Linked DNA regions of Homo sapiens. The protein of the gene in region 4 purifies or fractionates together with the protein of the main gene of each other region. This does not show direct contact. Each region holds a gene or a part of one and is shown on either strand. Other genes may lie near its edges.

What was found.
Region 1: the proteins of GRB2 (region 4) and ANXA2 purify together in Homo sapiens (affinity purification with western blotting; 5 studies listed by BioGRID and IntAct, with this or other methods). This does not show direct contact.
Region 2: the proteins of GRB2 (region 4) and SNX18 purify together in Homo sapiens (co-immunoprecipitation; 5 studies listed by BioGRID and IntAct, with this or other methods). This does not show direct contact.
Region 3: the proteins of GRB2 (region 4) and DOCK5 purify together in Homo sapiens (co-immunoprecipitation; 5 studies listed by BioGRID and IntAct, with this or other methods). This does not show direct contact.

The regions. Positions count from the first base shown.
Region 1 is NC_000015.10:60,394,954-60,402,751, reverse strand, and holds the start of ANXA2 (annexin A2), read left to right. Parts: upstream 1-4,765; 5' UTR 4,766-4,809; exon of another isoform or gene 4,810-4,838; coding exon of another isoform or gene 4,839-4,881; intron 4,882-5,413; exon of another isoform or gene 5,414-5,494; intron 5,495-6,324; exon of another isoform or gene 6,325-7,798. UniProt on the Homo sapiens protein: Calcium-regulated membrane-binding protein whose affinity for calcium is greatly enhanced by anionic phospholipids. It binds two calcium ions with high affinity. May be involved in heat-stress response.
Region 2 is NC_000005.10:54,541,725-54,547,089, forward strand, and holds the end of SNX18 (sorting nexin-18), read left to right. Parts: intron 1-1,454; coding exon 1,455-1,708; 3' UTR 1,709-4,862; downstream 4,863-5,365.
Region 3 is NC_000008.11:25,411,661-25,416,220, forward strand, and holds the end of DOCK5 (dedicator of cytokinesis protein 5), read left to right. Parts: 3' UTR 1-4,051; downstream 4,052-4,560. UniProt on the Homo sapiens protein: Guanine nucleotide exchange factor (GEF) for Rho and Rac. GEF proteins activate small GTPases by exchanging bound GDP for free GTP. Along with DOCK1, mediates CRK/CRKL regulation of epithelial and endothelial cell spreading and migration on type IV collagen.
Region 4 is NC_000017.11:75,325,657-75,332,693, reverse strand, and holds part of GRB2 (growth factor receptor-bound protein 2), read left to right. Parts: intron 1-6,673; coding exon 6,674-6,796; intron 6,797-7,037. UniProt on the Homo sapiens protein: Non-enzymatic adapter protein that plays a pivotal role in precisely regulated signaling cascades from cell surface receptors to cellular responses, including signaling transduction and gene expression.

The DNA.
Region 1 (7,798 bases), on a different chromosome or scaffold from region 4:
TGGGAAGAGTTTCTGGAGAGGGGTCATATAATCAGAATTATGTCTCAGAAAGAGAATTCTGGCTGTCTCAGAGAATGAACTGAGGTCAAAAATGTCTGTTACAGCTGAGAAAGAGACATTGAAGTCACTGCAGATTTTTCCCTGGAAATGCCTCCAAACAAAATAGACATTGTGGTTTGTCCATACCAAGAGTACTCTGTGTGGTTTGGGTCATGACACGTGAATTCAACAAGGATTTATTGAGGTCTTACTATGCGTTCAGCAAGGCCAGCTGCTGCAAAGACTAAAAAAGCCAATGAAATAACTATGGCTTTTTTCATCACCTACAATATACCAGACATTCTTTATACATTTTTTAATCTTTTTTTTTTTTTTTGAGACGGAGTCTCACTCTGTTGCCAGGCTGGAATGCAGTGGCATAATCCTGGCTCACTGCAACCTCCGCCTCCCAGGTTCAAGCGATTCTCCTCCCTCAGCCTTCTGAGTAGCTGAGATTACAGGCACGCGCTACCAAGCCCAGCTAATTTTTGTATTTTTAGTAGAGACAGGGTTTCACCATGTTGGCCAGGATGGTCTGAATCTCTTGACCTTGTGATCCACCCGCCTTGGCCTTCCGAAGTGCTGGGATTACAGGTGTGAGCCACCACGCCCGGCAAAAACTTCTTTTTAAAGACTCCAAGAAAGATTTAATGTGGTACTTCGAAGACGATCTCAGGGCTTCTAAGAATCTTAAGTGCATTGTCCCACTGCAGCCTGACATGTAAAGTAGAGAGAGATCTATTTAAAAAAAAAAAAATGAATGTGAATCTTGGAACATGGAATTAAACCTCAGCAAGATTTATATAAATAAAGTTTTTGAGAAAATTGTATATAAATCTTGGAGCATGGTGTGAACCTTAATAAGATATGGAAAATCTACATGGTTTTTAAGATACTTGTATTAATGAAACAACTGCCAGCTTAAACCAGAAAAAGTGCAAAATGAAAAGAAGTTTCTAGACCTTTCAGTTTCTCCTGGCATGAATGAAGCAGACTGAGAGAACTGCTCAGCTACAAATATGGGCCATTCTTTTTTTTTTTTTTTTTCTTGAGACGGAGTCTCGCTCTGTCACCCATGCTGGAGTGCAGTGGTGCGATCTCAGCTCACTGCAACCTCCCCCTCCTGGGTTCAAGCCATTCTCCTGCTGCTCAGCCTCCCGAGTAGCTGGGACTACAGGCGCCCGCCACCACGCCCAGCTTAATTTTTTGTATTTTTAGTAGAAATGAGGTTTCACCATGTTGGTCAGGCTGGTCTTGATCTCCTGACCTCATGACCTGCCCTCCTCAGCCTCCCAAAGTGCTGGGATTACAGGCGTGAGCCACCATGCCTGGCCTGGGCCATTCTTAAGAAAAGGAAATACATCTTAAAGGGAGGAGCCTAGATATCAGAGGGCAAAACCAAAAACTTGAGTAGGGCAATGGATTAAAACAAGGATCAGCAAACTACAGCCCATAGGGCAAATCCAGCCTATTGCTTGTTTTTGCACAGCCTGTGAGCCAAGAGGCCTGGCAGCTTCAGCTTTTGCTTCTAGAAGGCTGGCTGCCATGACTACCGTGGTGTAGCAAAAGAGGAGAACCTGGAGGATGTAAGACCAAGGAAGAGAAAGGCCCAGCCTGCTCTTTGTCATTCTAGCAATCCCAGCTCAGGCGCCAGACGAATGAAGCTGCTTTCAATCTTCCAACCCCAACTAAGCTACCCAACCCAACATGCTGTGGAGGAGCACCAAGCTGTCCCCACTGGGTGTCCTGCTTAAATTGCAGAATTACAAGCAAGTAAATGGTTATGTTTAACCACTAAGTTTATGGGGATAATTTGTTATACTGCAAAGGTAACTGATACGAGGGCCTTGGGTGCATTATTTAATCCCTGGACTGGGCAGGAGATTTTATTTGGACTCCAATTTCTTCATATGTAAAAATCAAGAGCCGGGTATAGTAATTCACGCCTGTAATCCTAGAACTTTGGGAGGCTAAGGTAGGCAGATCACTTGAGCCCAGAAGTTCGGGACCAGCCTGAGCAGCATAGCAAGACTTTGTCGTCTCTACAAATAATAGAAAAATTAGCCAGGCTTGGTGGCGTGGGCCTGTGGTCCCAGCTACTCAAGAGGCTGAGAGGAGAGGATTTCTTGAGCCTCCGCAGTCAAGGCTGCGGTGAGCCCTAATCATGCCATGCGTTCCAGCCTGGGTGACAGTGTGAGATCTCAACTAAAAGATATAAGAATAATAATAGTAAAAATCAAGGATAGGGCAATTTAATCTCTAGGGTCCCTCCCTGCTTTAACATTCTATTATTCAGTGAATAATTGTATTTTATCATTCTATCACATTTAGTGAGTGCCTATCATTGCTAGCTAGGCGCTAGTAGGTGTTGAGTGCAGCAGATGAAGTGTGAACAAAACAAAGTCAAGCACTTAGAGAGCAATATGGACAACAGCAGACAATCTGAGGGCTGATGTAAACATTCTCCTCAACCAGGGGGGAAAATAGAGTCTTCTGACTAATAAAAGATCTTTTATACTGGAAGAACTGGCCTCACATTCCTCAGAAATAGCAAACTATGACTTCTAATAGCTTCATTTTTATGATAACATCAGTGCACATTTCTTTAGCATGATGCAAAGACTGGTGATTGTACAAATCTATAGAAGTTAGAATTTGTGGCATGCCCAAGATGAGCACAAAACTCTTTTGGACATTTGATGGCTTTTATATATTCCACATGATTTGAATTAAATTTTATCTTCTGTAAAGGGCCTATCACAGCACGATTAGGAGTAAGAGACTGTGGAACCTATCTTGAGATACACAGAAGGGAGGCTGAATCGTGCCCAATATTACTGTCTGCCTGTGTTCCCCTAACCTTCCAAAATGTTCACACAAAGTAAGCAGATAAACATTGTTTCTGACTTTGAAGCTTTCAGGCTAAATTGAAGAGCTATAAATGTAAATCAGCAATTGTACCCAAAGTGTTGCTTGATTTTCTATTTGGCTCTGTGGTAGGGCCCATCGCGTATAATTCCTCGTGAAAGCGCTGGGTAACAGAAAGCTTTGGGCGGGTTAAAAGACCTCAGCTGTGGCCGACTTTGCCTGTGTCACTCTATGCGAGTGGGCAGAGCACTGAATGTCTGTTGGCCTTGCTATCATTCTCTGATTCCCAGGAGTGAATTGACGCTCAAATGGAAAGTAAAAATGGATGTTAAGATAAATGGGAGATTGAAACACAGAATCATCAAAACCAGGAAAAAGAGCTGCAGGAAGTAGTGTGCAAGGAGGGGTTTAAAAAACGCAGCCAGAGATCCTCGGGATTCTCAGCGTCGCTTTCCTGTTAGTTTGAGGTTCGAATACAGTATTTGCGTCGTCTCACATACAACAAATAGGTGTCTGCCTGCACGTTGCCAACGTGACTCTTGGAAGAAAAGCGAGAAGCAGCAAAACCGAGCAAGGGAGTTGGCTAAACGGCTGCAAGAAACACACACACACACACACACACACACACACACACGGAAGAAAAGCGAGAAACAGCAAAACCGAGCAAGAGAGTTGGCTAAACGGCTGCAAGAAACACACACACACACACACACACACGGAAGAAAAGTGAGAAACAGCAAAACCGAGCAAGGGAGTTGGCTAACTGGCTGCAAGAAACTCTCTATCTCACTCTCTCTCTCTCTCTCTGTGCTGCAAGAAACTCTCTCTCTCTCTCTCTCTCTCTCTCTCTCGGAAGAAAAGCGAGTAACAGCAACACCGAGCAAGGGAGTTGGCTAAACGGCTGCAAGAAACACACACACACACACACACACACCACACACGCACACACACACCCCAGCAGTCATGAAAGAAGGAGAGGAAAGTTCTTTGTTGAAACTCCGGGTTCGAAACACACACACACACACACACACACACACACACACACACACACACACACACACGAAACTCCGGGTTCAAAGCTATGGGCCCCACCCCGCTCAGGACTGCCTGCTACGAGGCCGCGCAGAGATGCCCCAGGCGCGGAGAGAAGCGGAGCACAGCCGTGCTAGGGACAGGGGCGCCACCCTGGGCGGGACTGAGGTGGGATCCTGGCTCCCGGCTTTGGCCTCCCAGCCCAGGCTCGGGGCTTCCTGGCCCTCGGAGGCCGGGGCGGGCCAGGCTTTGCAGCACAGGGCGAATCTCCCTCCCTCCCCGGGCGCCCCCCGGGAACTGGCGGCCAGAGGTTAAGCTGACATGTTTGCAGACGGTAATGGGGCGCTGGATGCCAACAGCCCCAGCTCAGGGGAGTCCAGATTTATGTTTCTTGGAACAATTCTTTCCTCCATTGCATTAACGCCAAAAAAAAAAAAAAAAAAAAAAAAACACTTAATCAAGCCCAGAGTCTACTACTAAAGTCTTGTTAATTTATTAACCCAAGCCGAGGCTGAGAGCTCGACGTGGCACTTAAGAAGTAAAATGAGGAAAGGAGGAAGAAACGGGGTCCCTGTGGGCCTCGGGGCAGCCTCGGCCGGGCTTTCTCGGAGGGCAGGGCCAGGGGCGCTGGGGCCGCTCCCGCGTGGCGCGGCTCGGGAGCGTTCCAGGGCGCGGTCCCTGCGGGCCGGCGGGCCGGGGTGAGTCACCCCTGACTTGGGGTGGGAGCGGGCCGTGTAAGGGGGAGGCGGGGCGGGGCGGGGCGGGCCTCGCCTCGCCTAGGGAGGATGTGGCGGGTATAAAAGCCCCACCCAGGCCAGCCGGCTCTGCTCAGCATTTGGGGACGCTCTCAGCTCTCGGCGCACGGCCCAGGTAAGCGGGGCGCGCCCTGCCCGCCCGCGATGGGCCGCCAGCTAGCGGGGTGTGGAGACGCTGGGAAGAAGGGTACGGCCTGGCAGGGAGGCCCCGGCAACTGGCCCCGGAGGCCGTCGGGGGCAGGGGGCTGAAGGGACGGCCGGCACTGGAGAGTCTTTGGGGAGGGGGCTCAGGGACAAGGTGTTTGGGGCAGGGGTGAGGGGCCACCGGCCCTCGGGCCGGGAGGGTGCAGGGCAGAGGTGGTGGGGGGTCGGGCTTCTCTAAGAAGCCCTAGCGGGAGCGGGGCGAGGCGGCGTGGGGAGAGGGGCGGAGGGAGGCCCCGCATTCCAGACGCGCCAGGCGCCGCCGAGGCAGGGCGTGGCCGCCCAGGGAGCCGCAGGTCCCCGGCGCAGCAGTAGCAAGTGGGCTTTCCACTGCCCTCTAGAAAGTGCCCCCCATCTGCTCTAAGTTACTGTACTCGAAACAAACGCGCGCTTGTGGAGTTGAACCGACCAGCAGGAGGGAAGTAGCGGGGGAAGACGAGAGGGGGGAGTGTGAGTAGGCACCCCTCAGCCCCCCATAAAAGAAGACATTAAAACGTCAGTTATTCCCCTTGCTCTAGGTTATCTTGTAGCATAGCAACTTCGGATTTCACTCTACCCGGAGAGTTTCCCGCTTGGTTGAACACATTGGCCTCAGGAAGGTAGTGTCCCCCATGATTCTGTGGGGAGGGTTGTCCTGTTACTCGCCATGATGTGACAATGAGTCAGGAACTGAGAGTAGAGAGAAGGGCGTGGCCCCGGGGCCTCTCCCTTCTGGCCGCTCTGTGCAGCTGGCCCCACTGCTGGTGTGGAGGGCTTGGGTTCCATCAGCCGGCTGTTGAGAAGAAGGAGGGGAACACAGATAAGTTTCCTCATCTGGGAAGGTGGCTTAAGGATGCCTATTCTTACCACCACCCAGAGTTATTGGAGATTTCAAAAAACACAGTCATTAGGTAATAAATGTGTAAAGTACACAAAAAACAAAGTGCTGTGCAAATGCAAAGTGTCATTTTTGTAGTAAGATTGCCGTTTTAAAGCTGTGGGTGTTCTGAGTGCGTGTGTAAAAGAGCAGTGGCCTCATGGGTGCACGCTGGGCCATTACCAAGAACCTTAAGTTGTTGGTGTGCAAAGGCCTGGGCCCCAGACTGTACTGATGGATTCTGTTCACACGTGTGTGCTACTGTGCCTGTCTGGAACTTGGTGACTTGGAATGCAGAATGCACTTTCCCACTGAAACAGTGTTGCAGAAGGTGCTGACGTTCCCAGGCTAGCCCTGAAAGACCTTTTTAACATGCACTGCCTGATTATGGGATTGGTGGTGGGGAGGTGGAGGGTAGTGAGGGGCAATGTGTGTGTAGGAAGACTAAATCACTGAAATATTTTTCTGGAACTTTTTTTAGCTTTAAGGTTGACACTGAGTAAATTATTTTAATTGGAAAATTATGTCTTTGCCCCTGTTCCACTTTCTTTTTTCCACCTTCCACCTCCTTAGAGACGCTCTTCTGGCTCTTCCGTGACGCATTACAACAGCCATCCAGGCCGGTCCAGTTACGCTGCATTCCTTCCTCCTTCCCATTTCGGCGGACCTGCATCCAGCTAGAGACTAGCAGATTGAATCGATATTCATTAAGTTAGGAATGGTTGGTGGTCCTAAGAGCCTCAGCAACCGAGAGGAGTCTTGTTATTTAAAAAACAACGATACTGGGCGTGGTCGTGGGCCTGTAGTCCCAGCTGCTCAAGCTAGTGGATCTCTTGAGTCCAAGGCCAATGTGAGCAACATAGCAAGACCCAGTCTCAAAAAATAAATACATAATAATAATAAAAAACCCTCGTTCACCTAAACAGATCTATAATTTATAGAATGTAAAGCAGCAATATTCAGGCAATATTAAGGAAGATTTTTGGTAAGACTGGGGCAGCAGAGGTGCCCTTGATGGGCAAGGGCCAGGAGTGTTAACACAGTCCTGCTTAGTAATTTCTTCCCTTCTTCCAAGTCTGTCGATTATCTAAAGGTCAAGGGTTTGTCCAAAAATGTCCCTTGCATCTGCAGTGGAAGGATGTGACATGTATGTGCATTTTTACAATTGGAGGTTTGTGATTTGGAGACCGTTTAGATTTTGTAATTTCCCGCAGTGCCAACTAGACTGCCTGTGGTAAATGCCCAGGAAATATTGCTGACTCACTGACTTTGATTAGGAGCTCAGTCTTGCACTGGAGTCTCAATATTTAGCATCTTGTGTCTTTGAGCTATTAAACTATGGTATTGATTGACATTAGGCTCGCAGTCATGGCCGTTAGTTTCCTGGCTAATTTCTGATTTAAGTAGTTTTCCTGGCAAAGTAGATGTGCTTCTATAATTGCTATTGATTTTGAGGGCTGTAGGCTCTTCCTACACCACTGGGCCTAGAATCTGGCACTAATGCATTGTCTGGAGCCTTTGTTCTCACCCTTCGCTTGTGCAGAGCCTGGAGCCTGCGGAGACATTTTTCATTAAAGGAGAGCGGGATTGTCACAAAAGGAGTCTCAGGCTCTAGTGGGCTGCTTTAAACAACCATTTATTCCACAAAATATTAATTACCTACTGTGTTCCACTCATAGTTATGAGCACTAGGGATACAGCAGTGAACAAAACAGACCCCCGCCAAAAATAAAATCCCTGCTCTTTAGACCTTAAATCTGGCGGAGAGAGAAGGAAAAGAGACAAAATAAGTGAATTGTTGGATTTTAAACTTTATATTTTCCCAAATTAATACTAGTTTCTAAACTTGGTGGGAGTTCATTTCCCCTTTAATCCAGCTGTTCCACAGACCTAAACTTCACATTTTACCTACCTCGGGGAAGTTTTGCTTAAAATTATGGTGTCTTAAGCTGCCTTCCAGATTCAATTGTGAGAATTAAATAGAAATGGAATGTTCCTCTTTTTTTTCACATGAGAATCCTCTTCACTTGCCCTGGTGCCACACCCT
Region 2 (5,365 bases), on a different chromosome or scaffold from region 4:
ACATATGTGCACACCTACACGTACATATATATGGATGAAATTTGCTGTTGGTGCTTTTTCATTTCTCAGGTCTTTGAACTATGCCAAAAAAGCATACTGCTTTACGTTTAAGGGTTTTGTTTAATATTATATTATTCTTTAGGAGATTTGAAGAAATTTAGAAATAGGGCATCTTCCCTTGTATATTTCACTATTGGGCAAAACAACATTTCCGAAACAAAGTCTCTCAGTTTCTGTACCTCCTCCTACTCAAGGTTCCTGGTTCCCTCCTCAGTAGTACTGTGTTCTCAGACTGCCAAGCCAGGCACTCTAGCTGTTTGTCTCTGTGTTCTGTCTTGCCTTTCAGTATGGTTTAGTGGAATGAGTGCTAGGCACAGTCGGGAAATCTGAATTCTTAAGCTGGCTTTGTTCAAGTGATTTGAGCTTTATTACTACTCATTCCTAAGAACTCAGGAATAGCCTATTTCCTACCCCTAAACATCCTCAAACTTTTGTGTCTTTGTATGACTGTGCTTTCGGGGGAGGGCCTGCGTTCGTATGGCACCTGCCGGAGTGGTCAATCCTTCACCCCCACCCCTGCAACACCCTCTGTTGATACTTCTAGGCATGAGATTATGGAACCGCTGGCATCATTCCTAAGTCATCATTAGGGCAGAGTTAACACTCACCGATCCTTATAGTCCCAAAAAAGGGGCAAATTCTTATTAAAGCCCTTGTACTCCAGGTGTGGGTCTCCCGATGCAACGTGAAGTCAGAATCAGACATGTGTTCGCAATTCACCCCTTCACCAGGCACTTTCTGTGTGCTGAGCACTTCAGCTAGGTGTTTACTCTGGATGACAAGATAATGGGCTAGGCCAGCCCTCATGAGGGTGACCTCCAATTGTAGACTGGCAACATTGCCAAGCACCCTCCATGACTGTGACATGATTCCAAAACACAACCTGTGTTGGTACTAACTTGTTTCAGAGACTGGTTCTAGAGTCTGAATTATTTAGTGAGACTTTCTGAGGAAGTGGGTTTGGATCCTTTATGGGATGTTTTTATAAACAGTATAATTCTCTTAATATATGTGGAAATAATGATGTCACACCTTTTGAGCCTGTGAAAACTGCAGTTTCTTGTTGTGTCTTTTTAAGGACATTTCCTTGCAGTTTATTATCAGTTATGTATAGCATCTCTACTTGGAAGAGATGGGATACTACAGATTCTTGGTCAATGTAACAAACACTAGTTTTTGAAGAGAAATTTTAACAAAGGGAGTGTTTTCAGAAACTTTACCAGATTCCTTCTTTTTTTAAAATGAGTAATTATGGTCCTCACTTTAAATTTCAAAGGTATTGAAAATAGTTTGGGCAACTATTTATAATGCCCAAGATTCTGTTTAATATGTAGTTATGTTCTTGGGATATGTGGATATATAGGTTTTTAATTAATTGTTATTTTTAACTACAGGAGCTCTTACCAAAGTCAAGGAGAGTAGGCGACACGTGGAGGAAGGGAAGATGGAGGTGCAGAAGGCTGACGGCATTCAGGATCGCTGTAACACTATTTCTTTTGCCACTTTGGCTGAAATTCACCACTTCCATCAAATTCGAGTGAGAGACTTTAAATCACAGATGCAGCATTTCTTACAACAACAAATAATATTTTTCCAAAAAGTTACCCAGAAGTTGGAAGAAGCTCTTCACAAATATGATAGTGTTTAATGACTGGACGTTGGATTATGGACTTTTTCAGTTCAAGGATAATTTCTACAGCAGAATAAAAACTGCTGTCAAAGAGCTATTGCCAGCTATCAGTGGTGGTACAAGGACGGTTTTGTGTTCATCTGAAACCCAGCTGAATTTATAATTATGTAGGAAATAAACAGTTAATATGGTTATATAATAGAAACAGTACCACACATTGTAACTAAATTATACTATGTATGCCTACACTACCATTGTAACTTTTGGAATAATGATTATACTATTTGCCTTATTGCTTTTTGAAGTATGGGTATTTTAGTGCATACTTTGTAGACCTCAAAACCCATGAAGGGTCTCAAAGAAGCTGGCTGGATACAAGCCTGCTGTGGATGCCTTTTTACTCTCATAGATTGGGATTACCTAAATTCAACCTATTCTCTGTTTACAAACTCCAACTAGAGCAGCTATGCGACCTTGTGCCTTTAGACTCTTGGTTTTTCATTTCTCCCCGTCCCTTCCCCACCTTTTTAAAGTAAGCCACAGCTTTTCTGATTGAAAGAGTGAAAGGCCAGTGCATATAATGACAAACTGATGATAACCTTATATTGGCAGTAGGGGGTGGGGGGGGCGGTGGGGTGGGACGATCAGCTGTCATCAATTTGCACAGCAAGTATTATCTCCTGATAAGATGCTGGTGAATGCAGGGGAGTGAGATTCATTGCTCATCTTTGGATATGAAGTCTGTTAGGGAAGAAACAGTGCCACTATTCCCTTAGATGCAACAGTAGCATAGCCTCTTCACCCAGGCGTCCCAAAAGCTTGGCGTGAAGATTTCAGCAAACATGTCTTACAACATGAGGAGGAGGAGTCTAAATCAGTCAGGGGATAAAAGTATCGAATCATTGACAACACACACTTGGCTTTAGTTCTTAGGAGGGTTTTGTTTTTGTTTTTGTTTTTAGGTTGAAGATTTTCTTTTAATATTCAGTTTTTTGAAAAAAAATGGATCTACACTGTTAACTGATTGAGACTCCACTGTGATTCACTTGTTTACTTAAAAACTTTTCAGGGATGTCTGTAAATTTCAGTGTTAATATGTCATGAAAAGTGGTGTGGATTGATCTAAGGAGGGACCAGAAATAATTTTTGCTATTCCAAATACTGAAGGAAAAAGATAATTGATTTATACTATGTTTTAAAAAAAAAAAAGGTATTGATGAGCCCCCCCCCCCCAGGACATTTAACCTTAAAATTTATTTTAAATGTATTCTTTTATTATTATAAGGGAAATACAGATGGCTGATAAATACCAAAAAGATTCAAAAGCAGCTTAATTTAAAAAGCACAAAGAGATTCTGGCTTACAGTGCCCCAATCTCAATGTTTTTATAGTTGCTGAGCTAACTAATGTGATTATTGAGTTTACAGATTTAAAAATTGTCACTGTTAGAGTATCTACTGTTTTTATGAAGTCAAACTTATGCTGCCTCAGAAATCCCTGGGTACTGAAATGGTAACATGGAAGTGAAGAGGTCACTTTGAAATATTGGTGAGTCACAAAGATTAAAGAAAAGGATCAGTTTGCAGATACTCAGAAAAGGTTATTGAAATAATTACTGAACAGCACATTTTCTCTCTAAAAAGTAGTTTCATATGGGTTGTATTTTTAAGATCAGATTATCATTTTGATATTTGGTCAAAATTTTGTACCTTAGGTTACTTAGAGCCAGATTTAACATCATGAACATTATGTGGCTTTGTCTTTACTACAGATATGTGGAACTGTAACCAAATATGTTGTCTCTAAAACTTGTTGATTGCAAAATACAGTTCTATAAACAAAACCCATATGTATATATAAATGTTAATTTTGCGGAAGTCTGGAAATTATAACTATAGCATTTAAGTTTGAGTCTGTATTGGACAAATAAGCACCATGCTTTTCAAATGATTTAAAAATTACTTTTATTTGCCTCTTTATTTTGATGGTGGTTGGATTTTTTTTTTTTTAATAGTAAAATCACTAAACTTGTGCAATGGTAGCATGGAAATTATCTGAGGTATATTGTATGATTGTACTTTAGCCAGGGTGGACATAGCTTAAATTATAAAAACTAAAGATGAAAGTACAAGGAAGTATAAGTTATACTTATGTAAGTATAAATTCATGCTGCCTACTTCTAAGAGAAATTTCATTCTTCATAACCACATAACATTATAATGCCACTGATTCATACGGGATTTACATTAATTCTATGGGGGAGGACACTAGAATTATTAGTGTTCATTTTCATCTAAGATCTTTATTCTCTAACGTTCTTGGTCCTATTGAAACATTGCAGTATGCAAAACTACTGCAATGTTAAACCCAAGAGAAAAGCCATTATCATGTGTATGCTGGTCATCATGATCAGTGTGGTACAATTTTTAAAAATAAACTATCATGCCCTTCATGCCATTATTTGTCTTTATTTCTATGATTTATAATCCTGATATGTGATGTGTTTGTAACACAGGGTGTGCACTTGAGCCTGGTTTTACTGTTTTTATTAGACAGAGTTGTTTATATGCTGTAACTGTAACGCAGCGAGACTGGTTCTACAGCCATGTGTCGTAATCTTGTTCCCCGTCCAAGCTGTTGTATCTGAAGGTACCCAGTTTGCACCCAGGATGAGGGAACGCATTCAAAAGTGAAATGTAAAGCCAGTGCACGAATATTATAGTAATTGAGATTTTCCCAGGCTTCACTGATACAGTTGTTTTGCATTTATTCACAATAATACAGCAGATTCTTAAATGCCGATTTTTAATTGTCTTAAATTTTGCTGCTGTTCTCATAATTAAGGACTTGAAAAATGTTTTAGTCTGTCAAGTATGTAAAGTTTGTGTAAAAACTTTTAAATGTCATTCTTAAGTTCATTGCCATAGCCATTTTCCATTTATGTCTTCATTTTCCAAAAATCAAATGCCATGTCTGATACCTTTAAGTCCATAAGCATTCAATTTTCTCATTTCCACCTTCATCTTTGGTTAACAGAATAAGTAAAACAGGGTATTATTTATTTGTAGTCTAGAAATGTTGAATATTGTTTTATTTCCTTCAAAATGTTATGATTAGTGCAGATCAGCCATGTTTATCTTTTTAAAAAATAAACAGGTTGCTTTATTTCTTAGCTTCAATGGAATATAATTATTTTTTCTCCACTCATCAAGGAGGCATTTATTTAATGTGAAGAATTACACAGAAAAATAGAAGAGCATGTTCTGTCTTGAGCTTCATCTGCAGTTACCATAGAAATTATTCATCAAACACTGTAGCTAATTTGATTAATTTAAAACCATCATCATTCAGATAGTCCCATGGAGTATCTGCTTCCATTAGTGACATCAGGAATTAAGCACATAGCAGTAAGTTGTGAGTGAGAGGTTTTGAAATAATAGCTCCCATGAGTCCAATACCTGAGACAGAAGCAGGTGCTTAAGTAAAGTACTTGACATACTGTCTGTTGGTTGCCATAAATAGGCGAACTCCAACACACATAAGCCAAAATATAATAGCTACGGGACCTGGCATATCTTGCAAGGGGCCAAAGTCCCATTTGGCAAAGCTTGCCCTCTTTGTGGGGCTTTGTAGTCTTGTATCTGCTTATCTTTACAGATTTGTTTTACATATATG
Region 3 (4,560 bases), on a different chromosome or scaffold from region 4:
CTCCTTGGAAGGATTTTTTGCTTTGCTTATGAAAAGCTGTGCTTGAGACTTAGGTACTTTTCTCACGTGGACACACTGATCCCATCCCATATTGCATCTTGGAAGAGATGGATATCAAGTACACTTTGGTAGCTGAAATAATCATATCTTTCTGATGTCTATTGTATCTCCTTTGAGGAAAAGAACACACATTTTTAATGGAGATTGGCTGCTTTCAGGTATGTGTGTCTATCATTGAAAGAGCATGGACTCAAACATCAGCCCTGAGTTCTTGAGTCCACCCAACTCCCATCTTCTTGTGGCACAGGAAAGCTGCCCTCTCCCTCTCCCACCACACTCCTGACTAATGGCCTTCACTGCGTCGCAGTCACTCCTTCCCTACGGACTTCTTTGAAGCTCTTCCTTTTGCACATACGGCTTTTTTTTTTTTTTTTTTTTTTTGTCCTATTACCTCCTCTGAGCGCAAATCACTGGCTACAAGGGACTTACCAGTCTGGATTCAGCAGTTTCTTTTCTAAAACCCATTTGGGTGACTCAGCAGCCGCATCTGCTACCTGATTTTATCCTGGAGAATACAGTGCAATATTTCTCTTTGATTATTTATTCCTCTTGATTGTGGAATTAATTTGATTGCTTGCTAATGGTACTAGTAGTACTCCTTTCAGAAGAAAAAATGGAGCGATTTAGGTGACCAAATATTACATACATAAATAGCCACATGAAGTTTTAGACGTTTGGACTTGAAGCCTCAAAGATCAACCAACCAGTCCCCTTATTTAGTAAATAAGGAAATTGAGGCTACACACAGAAAATTGTGCTACAGATTATTACTAATAACCCAGCTTGCTAAATTAGGCTATACCTAGGTAATCTCTAGAAGACAACTCTGACAGACTCTTTAATATTTACCCCTGGTTGGAACAATATTTGAAATGTCCCAGATATTTCTATGCTACTTAGATATTTGTGGCAAAGCAGAAAGCTTTTTGACTGTGAAGGCAGAGGTCAGCACTGGGGGAAACTTGCTGGTGGTCTCTCCCACAACCTTGCCCAGAGTCCTTTCCACTAAGGAGGTGAAGAGAACAGAGAAAGAGATTTCCATTTCTGCTGCCAGAGCTGGTATTTGCCTGCCTGATTCTCTGTGTTTCCTGTTTCACCGCCACCCTTTCAGGAGAGAACTACACCAGTTCATCATGAGGGTCAGGGAAGCAAAAGCTCTCAGATGTGTCCAGGGCGTTACTTAAGAAATGAGTATGCAGATTCTGGAAGGGGTGTGGAAAAGGTGATCCTTTACCCCCACCCAGGAAAACCTGCATTGTGCTAGCATGGAAGAATCATGGGCTTTGGAATTAAACCCATTTGGTGGAATTAAACCCATTTGGTTTCAAATCCCAGTTATGACATCTGTTAACTTTGCAAACTCACAAAAATTATTTGAAATTATCTGAGTTTTCATTTTCTCACCTTCCAGAATGGGGATAATGCCTCCTGCATCGGTTGTTGTGAGGTTTCAATGAGATGAAATATGGGAAAGAAGAGGTACTCACCTGATGGTCCCTGCTTTCCTCTGCTAGGCCTGAGTAGGAACTGGAACTCTCTAAGAGCATTACTCATACTTTTTTTTTCTTCCAAGGTAGTTTGGAATGTGAGTGCAAGTTAGTTCTGCACATACAGCCCTTCTCCAAATGGTGGTTTCCTTTGAGGTCTTTTACATGATTATTTATGACTAGAGACAAACTTAATAAGAACTCAAGAGGATTTTAAATGGAGAGAACTCAAGCTGTAGAGAAAGGAGGAGGCAACAGACAGGATATGTAGGGGCTTACCTAGAGCCTGGCACGACTTCTGAGAAGTCACCCAGCAGACCGGCTAGAGGGGATTTGTGTGCCACACTCTACTTGCCGGGCTGCCATTAAAATAGAAAGATATAAAACTGGGTCACCAAAAAAACCAAACCTCAAGGCTATCCTTCCAGAGCAGTAGAAATGAGTCCCACAGCCTGGTCTTTGAGCAGAGGCTGGGAAGATAGGATACATCACTGTCTGGATACCTTCTCTTTTTAATAGAATATATTCCGTATGATTCCCTTTCCACCTTAATGGAAATAATAGCTCTCTCCTGCCTGAACAAAAGGGATTCCAGGTAGTATTGTGGCTAAGAGATTACAGCGGACGATGGAAGGTTCATTTTTTAGGGAAGGTGTTGGGTAGGAAGAGTCACATTTGACAGAATTCATAAATAATGTGTCCTGAAGTCAGAGGATGACTGCAAAGAAACACCTCATGATTCCATTAAATATAAAGAGATAAGGAGCAAGGAGGAAAAAAGAGAAAGAATTGGTCTTTATTTTTCTTGCTAAGAACTCTCTGGAGTATTGAAAGACATTGAAATTATCCCTAAAATTGTCACAACTTTTGTGAATACTGGTATACGGTTGGAGGTGTTTTTAAATCTTTATTTCCTCTCTTTCTTTGTTCTAGTGACTTGTCTTGCTTTAAGATTTTTTTTAAAGGATTGTTTTATTCAACATATATCAAGTTCTTATGGAATGCCAGTCATGGTACTAGCCCCTTGGGATGTAGTGGTTGAGTGTGTTCAATGGAAACAGCCCCAGTATACAAAGACAGTTCACTCTGGTGTGCTGTAGGATTGGAAAGGGAGTGGTACCAGATGAAAATGAAACCCTAAAGAAGACTGCTGGGCCATGAGTTGCTTCCTCCTCCTCCACCTTAACCCTCTGATTCCAGAATTGCAGTCATTTTCTTCTGCCAAGGAAATCCATTAAAAACTGCAGCCACACTGCAATTTCCTAATGTAGAACAAGATATAAAGCAGGCTTTGAGACAACAACCTACCTTTGTTTACTCTTTCCAAGCTGGAAGAGTCCTTCTCCTCTAGTTGCCCCTAGGTCACTGGCTAATTTATTTTAAAATTTAGATGGAACTCATGTATAGTTAAGTGCACAAATCTTAGCCGTGCAGATGGGTAATTTTCACATAGCTATTTGCCCACATCCGTGCCTCTAAGATAGAGACATACACTGTTTTCAGCACCCCAGAAAGTTCCCACATGCCCATGGTGCCATTTTGTGAAAGGTATTTATAAGGCCCTTCAAATTTGTGGCTTCCTTTCTCATACTTCTCAGGTATAATGAAAGGGGGAGAAAAACCCCACCATCAACACAAAACAAGGCTATAAAGACTGTGCACCTTTTAACAAGTCAATTTGTAGTCAGTCCCTGGGCCTGTCTTTTTTTTTTTTTAATTTTGAAGCTACCTGAGGTTTAGAATTCCTTCAGCCCTAGCTGCTTTTATTCTGCTTTTTATTTAAACAAAAAGAGGGGGAGGATCTGAAGGAAACTAGTTTTCTGTACAAAGGCTTTGAGGTCCATGGACTATACTTGTCCCATTTATCATCCCAGGTGGTGCTTTGACCCTGCCATACCCTGGCTATTAAGATAAAAAGATTTGTGGACATTAAAATTATGAATATGTCAGTAATAATCCAGCACACATTGAAATATTGACACAGATTACCATAATTTGTGCAACATCTTATAAACAATGTCATTTCCATAGTAGTCTAAGGCTTCACCAGCCTGGCCCACTGTATCTAGACTTTAGGTTCATTTTAATAATTATGCTTTCCTTCTCTGTATCATTTGGGAAGTTGATAAATATCACTTCCTTAGATACCTTCATTCAGTGATATATCTGGCTTTTACAATTAAATTGGAAAAGGTAAGTTTCTCTTTGGTGGGTTGAGAGTTGGACCATCAATTCTAATCTACAAAAGGAAATTCATGATTTCACTCTGACGCCTAGGATCTAGCCAAGGCTGGTCTGCAGTATCAGATGTCCAAACTCATCTACTATTAGCCATATTTTGTGAGTCGTTTGTCTAAACTTTGTCAAAAATGCCTTTGCCATGATTTTGTTGCTATCTGGATTTCAAACATGGACAGTTAGGAAGATGTGCATTGAAGTAGGAAAATTTTGTTCAGATTTGCTGTTATTTATTTTTTAAATTAAAAATGGAAATGTATTTTAAAGTTTATTGTGTGTTTAGTTTGTTATTGCCCTTAAGTTGATGAAATCATTCCTGAACTTGGCAGTTTTTCCTTATCCATGCCTCCTTCATGACACATCACACCTAGCATTTTTCTGGCTTGTTTCCTTACAGGTCCTGTTAGGTTAAACCTGCACTGTGGGGTCCTGGAGTCATCTTTGCCCAGAAATAAGAAAAATTACAAACCACTTGCTTCCTTTCACCCTATCTATTTTTTTTTCTATCTAGGCTGACAGTTTTCTGATAGCAATTCATTTAATGTACATAGGTTCTGTTTCTTTACCCATTCCCCATAGATATTTAGACAGGTAAAGAGAGAAATAAAAAGGTTAAAGGGGATATCTAATAACTTACATGAAAAGGATAGGAACTGGTTCTAAAATGGTTGAATGTTTGTATCACCTGGGGAGAGGCCATTCCCAGACCAATTACATCAGAATTTCTGAGGGTGGGGAGTAAGATCCCAGGCATCCATATTTCTTTAAAGTCCCT
Region 4 (7,037 bases):
TAAGCTCCATTAGTCTTGGAAGGGTTGGACCCACCTCCTTGTTTCAAACACTCTTTTTAAAATTGAGATCACTGGGATGGATGTCATACTTTTTATTCACGTTTCTAGGGAATTAACAAAGGATATTGATTGTGCATGTTAATAGTATATAATAATATATCATAGTCAATAATATTATATGTTTTAGATTGATAATAACTGTCAGTGATCTTCAAAAATAAAACGATAGTTGGTGCAGGTCCGTAATTCTTTTTCTGTTAAATATGTCTTAGAGCCAGATGTGTTTTATAATTCTGCATTTTTTTTGAGTTTTAGAAAAGGTACTTAGATGATTTTGTGTTTATATGTGCTAATGCTGTGGGACGGTATCTTAATATCTTTGTATCCCCAGAGTACGGTGCTTGGCATCTAATAGTTCTCAATAAATGTTTATCCCTCCATCTTAGTGTTCCTACTTACAAGAGAACAAAATATGCTGTCCTCCAGGCTGCTGGGAGCAGTGAATATTTTTAATTTTTTTTCAGAAGCTACCCTTGTCACGATTTTATTAATAACGCAACATAGTGGACCCCTGAGAGCCCCTGCAGACCACTGTCCTCCCGTTCTCACCCACCCCTCATTCACAGGCCCTGCTCCTAGCACAGAAGCAGTTGCTGGCTTGCCTTACAAGTGTGTCAGGGGAGCTGAGGCTTTCCACGCTCAGACTAGAATGCCCTTGGACATTGTCCACTTGCTTTCACAGCAGCTGGTGGCGGAGACTTTCAGGTGGCTTGTCGCATCTTGAGTGGGAGGGGCCTGTTGGATCACAGCACATCCTCCCCAGGTCCCATATAAGCCACATAATTTGTGTACTTCTGTTTCCTTCAGTCGTCCTCAAAAGAAACTGTAGGTCAAGGGTTGGCTAAACTTTTTCTGTGAAGAGCCAGATAGCAAGTAATTTCGACTTTGTGGGCTGCATACAATCCTGTCAAATATTCCTTGTAAAAATTTTCTTTTAACAATCGAGTAGAAATTTAAAAAACAGTCTTAGGTTGTGGGCAGATTTGGGCAGAAGGCCATTATTGTTTGCTGGCTCCTTCATTAGATCCAAACACAACATCGACTTCAGTTCCCTTTTGTTTTCATATTTTCAGATTGAAAGGGAATTCAACAGAACATCATACTACACTTCTTATATGACATGCCTGTGGCTCGAAATTCTTATTTTTCTTCAGTGTTTCGGGTGACACAGGCATTTAAATCTGACTGTTGAGGAAAGATAGGAAAGGCTACCTTCCTTGGAAAGTTGTAGTTACTGCCAGGCTGACTGGGACAGTCACTCCCTTGCCTTGACCTTTTGTCCCCACTATGAAGAACTTTAGAAGAATTGATGGAGAAGCACCCAGCACAGGCTCAGCTGTGTTGTTATTTGCAGACTCTGCCCAAAGGGTGGGCAGTGCTCAGCCACTCTGAGCTCTGAAAAGGCAACTAGCAACTTAAAAACCCTTATTTATTCAGGTCTACCATATTGCTAACAAAGACCATGCTTGTGCCTATGTAGGTGTTTGGCCTTGCAGACGTAGTTGCTGTTGTATAGGGCTGCTCTGTGGCTGGATGTTCATGAGTATAGGGTCAGGGTCAGTACCAGGCCTTCTCCTCCACATCCTACCACCTCCTGTTTTTTTGTTTGTTTGTTTGTTTGTTTGTGGGGGTGGGGAGCAGGGGTTATGGAGGAAGAGGGAAGCATAAAATGTAGCACCATGTCAGCTAATGCAGCATTCAAGTTAACAAATTAGACTACAAAATGATTGTTGGCATTAGTGCTGCAGCATGAGTTGTATATGCTTGAGGGGTGGATCCAAATATGTGCTTTTCACACTAAATGCATATGGATGGGAGCCTACGGGATGTAGTAAAGAATTATATTGGAAAATTAGCCTTCTCCCCTCACCCCCTTAGCTCTCGCCCTTGCTATTTCTGTTGTATAAGCCCACCTTTTTTTTTTTTGTTTTTTGTTTGTTGTTGTTCTTGTTGTTTTTATGAGACGGAATCCTGCTCTGTTGCCCAGGCTGGAGTGCAGTGGTGCTATCTCAGCTCACTGCAACCTCCGCCTGCTGGGTTCAAGCGATTCTTGTGCCTCAGCCTGCCGAGTAGCTGGGACTACAGGCGCGTGCCTCCACTCCCGTCGAATTGTTGTATTTTTAGTAGAGATGGGGTTTCACTGTGTTGGCCAAGCTGATCTCGAGCTCTTGGCCTAAAGTGCTGGGATTACAGGTGTAAGCCACCGCACCCTGCCAAAGCCCATCTTTTGTTTGTTTGTTTGTTTGTTTGTTTGAGATGGAGTCTCGCTCTGTCGCCAGGCTAGAGTGCTGTGGCGCGATCTCGGCTCACTGCAACCCCCAACTCCCTGGTTCAAGGGATTCTCCTGCCTCCACCTCCTGAGTAGCTGGGATTACAGGCATGTGCCACCATGCCTGGCTAATTTTTGTATTTTTAGTAGAGATGGGGTTTCACTGTGTTGGTCAGGATGGTCTCAATCTCCTGACCTCCTGATCCGCCCGCCTCGGCCTCCCAAAGTGCTGGGATTACAGGTGTGAGCCACCACACCCGGCCCAAAGCCCATCTTTTTAAAGACTTTCAAAACATTTGCCTGTTAGAGCTTGCAGCAAGCCAAGATCACGCCACTGCACTCCAGCCTATTCAACAAAGCAAGACTCTGTCTCAAAAAATAAAAAATAAAAAAAATTCACCCGTAAGCATGTAGTCACATGTACATATCATCATTTTAAAAAGTCAAATTTATAAATGATATAAAATGCTATAGAAATGTAGAATGGTGGTATTTCAGTGTTTTAGTAGTGACAGCTATTCACAGGGTCTTGCTCTGTCATCCAGGTTGGGCTCAAGTTATCCTCCCACCTTAGTCTCCTAAGTTGCTGCGTCTACAGCTGTGCACCACTATGCCTGGCTAATTTTTTATTTTTCGTAGAGACAGGGTCTCACTGTGTTGCCCGGGCTGGTCTTGATCTACTGGGCTTAAGCAATCCTCCCACCTTAGCCTCCCAAAGTGCTGGAATTAACAGGCGTGAGCAACTGCACCTGGTGCCAGATTTTTTATTTCTTGATCTGGGTGCTTATAACAGAGTTGTGGTTTTTTTGGTTTTTGGTTTTAATTCCAGTTAGAGTACTTTTTAAACATTATAATTTGTACTTCACTACAATTTATTTTTTTTAATTGAAAATAAAATTGCGTTAATTTTAAGCTGGGGGCAAGAAAACACAGCAGCCATGTCTATGTGACACCAGACAGAAAGGTCTGGAAACCTAAGTGTTAGAACCGCCAACACGTGCTGCCTCTGGGGAGTTTGAGGGAAGCATCTTACTTTTTATGTTTGCTTCATGTACATCTAGGCTATTTCAGTTTATATTCATTATTTTATACCTACAAATGGGAAAAAACCTCCCTAGTGGAGAGATCTTGGGGGCCTAGGAGGAAAGAGAGCCTTGCTGATTGAGAATCTTCACCCTCACCATTGCTATTGGAAGTGGCAGTGGTGGGGAGTGTGGGGCAGTGTGGGGAGAGCCAGCCGAGGCCATGTGTGGATTTTCACTGCTGTACCCAGTCAGATGCATGCTGCATACACTTATATTAGAAACCCAGGGCCCCCCGATATGAGAAGGTTTAAATACCGTTGATTGGGGCCCCCCGATTGAGAAGGTCTCAATACCGTTAAGTGTCCTTATTTATTTATTTATTTATTTATTTATTTATTTTTTGAAAGCGAGTCTCGCTTTGTCGCCCAGGCTAGAGTGCAGTGGCGCGATCTCGGCTCACTGCAAGCTCCGCCTCCCAGGTTCACTCCATTCTCCTGCCTCAGCCTCCTGAGTAACTGGGACTACAGGCACCTGCCACCACGCCTGGCTAATTTTTTGTATTTTTAGTAAAGACAGGGTTTCACCGTGTTAGCCAGGTTGGTCTCGATCTCCTGACTTTGTGACCCGCCCGCCTCGGCCTCCCAAAGTGCTGGGATTACAGGCGTGAGCCACCACACCCGGCCTATTTAATTTTTTTGAGATGGAGTTTCACTCTTGTTGCCCAGGCTGGAGTGCAATGGCACGATCTCGGCTCACCGCAACCTCTGCCTCCCGGAGATTCAAGCGATTCTCCTGCCTCAGCCTCCCGAGTAGCTGGGATTACAGGCATGCGCCACCGCGCCTTGCTAATTTTGTATTTTTAGTAGAGATGGAGTTTCTCCATGTTGGCCAGGCTGGTCTCGAACTCCTGACCTCAGATGATCCGCCCACCTCGGCCTCCCAAAGTGCTGCGATTACAGGCATTGAGCCACCGCACCCAGCCTCCTTTTTTATTTTATTTATTTATATATTTTTTTGAGACAGAGTCTCACTCTTTCGCCCAGGCTGGAGTGCGGTGGCACAGTCTCGGCTCACTACAACCTCTGCCTCCCAGGTTCAAGTGATTCTCCTGCCTCAGCCTCCCGAGTAGCTGGGATTACAGGTGCCCACCACTGTGCCCATCTAATTTTTGTATTTTTGGTAGAGAGTGGGTTTCACCACGTTGGCCAGGCTGGTCTCAAACTCCTGACCTCAAGTGATTCACCCCACCTCAGCCTCCCAAAGTGCTGCAATTACAGGCATGAGGTACCGGGCCCAGCCTGTCCTTTTATATTTAGAGAGCATTCTATTCTAGTGATATGTGATTTCTCTTGTGTGGCCTGATTTCCAGGCACTGCAGGCCCTAGCCTTGAGTTATTTGTAGAAGCAGGAGGATCTATTGTCCCAGCTCCTCAGCATCCTGGCAGTAGAGTATGCAAAATGAGAAAGACTCCAAGCAGGTAGATGTCAGACTATTCAGAGTTACTAAGAGTCCCTAGAGGCTGACACACACACACAAGGACAAAGTTACTAAGGGCAGCTTCTAAGTGTATCCTTCCTAGCAGATCACATCTTTCTGTTTGAATTTGAGTATAGTATATTATTTTAGGTACATCTTCCAATATGGTTGCTTATAAGTAAGATATGTAAATTAGCCGGGCGTGGTGGCTCGCGACTTTAATCCCAGCACTTTGGGAGGCTGAGGCGGGCAGATCTCGAGGTCGGGAGTTCAAGACCAGCCTGGCCAATATGGTGAAACCCCGTCTCTATTAAAAATACAAAAATTAGCTGGGCGTGGTGGTGGCCGCCTGTAATCCCAGCTACTAGGGAAGCTGAGGCAGGAGAATTGCTTGAACCCAGGAGGCGAAGGTTGCAGTGAGCCGAGATCGTGCCACTGCACTCCAGCCTTGATGACAGAGTGAGACTCTATCTAAAAAAAAAAGGGCCGGGCGTAGTGGCTCATGCCTGTAATCCCAGCACTTTGGGAGGCCAAGGCAGGCGGATCAACAAGGTCAGGAGATCGAGACCATCCTGGCTAACACGGTGAAACCCCATCTTTACTAAAAATACAAAATATTAGCCGGGCATGGTGGCGGGCGCCTATGTATAGTCCCAGCTGCTCAGCTACTTGGGAGGCTGAGGCAGGAGAATGGCGTGAACCCGGGAGGCAGAGCTTGCAGTGAGCGAGATCGTGCCACTGCACTCCAGCCTGGGTGACAGAGCTAGACTCCTCAAAAAAAAAAAAAAAGAAAAGATATGTAAGTTAGATTTACAACTTTAATGGACTATTTGGTCCATTAAAAGGACTTTTGATATTATAATTAGCATATTAAATGAATGCCAGTTTCCATGTTTATAGGTCTTTATTTGCTATAACTTTTGCTTTTAAAAATGATAACTAAAGACAATTTTGAGAAGAGAACATGGTTTTCACAGTTTCTTCTTCCTAATTATAGTTTTCATTTGAAATAGTGAGGCAGCTTGACTTGAAGCTCTTGTAGAAGTGTTCCTCTCCTCTTCCTCTTGATAAGCCACAGCCAGTTGCTTCACAGTTTTTCATGAATTTAGCCACTTTTTCTTCTGGCCAAGGTGAATCAGCAATTGGGAGCAGAAGAGTCTGCAACTTGCCTCAAAAATCTGAATTTTGCAGCTAGCTGCTGAGCATATGGTAAATTACAATATTCCTGGTGGCTTCTGAAAGCTGAACTCTGAGCAGTGGCCCCAGAGGCAGGCCTTGAGAGGAATGCTGACCTTAGTTACTGGTAGAGGCACCCTCATACTATCTGAACCTTTTGCCTTTGGGCTGTTAGCAAAAGTAACCCTGCCTCCAGCTCCTGGCCGTCCAGGTTTCCTCCCCACTTTCCCTTAGTCCCACTGTGGTGAAGCTGTGATCTTATCACATGGCTGCAGGAAGGGGCCAGTCTCTCCTTGGCAGTTCATCCCGTACACCAAGCCCAAAGGCCTGAGCTTTTCCCCAGGCGCCTTTGTCATGAGTCAGTAGGGAGTCCAGTGGGCTTTGGCCTGGGGGGCCCATTTTCAAATGTCTCCCTCTATAGAAAGAGTGACCCACGGTTAGTGCCTTGGTGAGTCGCTTTCTGGGAAATGGAGTAGGCTAAAGACCTTTGAAGGTCCATCTCTGGGGACCCAACCCAGTGTCGATCTTGGGCACTGTGAGGCTGGAGGATGAGGAGGGAGGCCCCTTCCTCTGGCAAGGAGTGTTGTGTTACTCACATTTTGAAGGCTGGATATCCCGTTTCTTTGTGGGGAAGCAGATGTTGACCAGCTTGCCTTCCTTCCTTAGGTGGTTTTTTGGCAAAATCCCCAGAGCCAAGGCAGAAGAAATGCTTAGCAAACAGCGGCACGATGGGGCCTTTCTTATCCGAGAGAGTGAGAGCGCTCCTGGGGACTTCTCCCTCTCTGTCAAGTAAGTATTTCCTGCTGCAGTTGCCTGGAATCCTGTCTCTGACTGATCCAAATTGTGAAGCCGTTGGTCAGGTGCCTGGCTACACACAAAATGGTGGAGGCTTAGCCTAAACAGTTTCTTCATTTCACATTAAAATCCTAATTTCTGGCTCCTCTCAAAATGAGTTCTAGAAGCACTGGATGTAGATTCCCATGTGGACACAGCCTTCAGGAGGTGAGCAGCAGCTCCCTGCAGCCAGCTG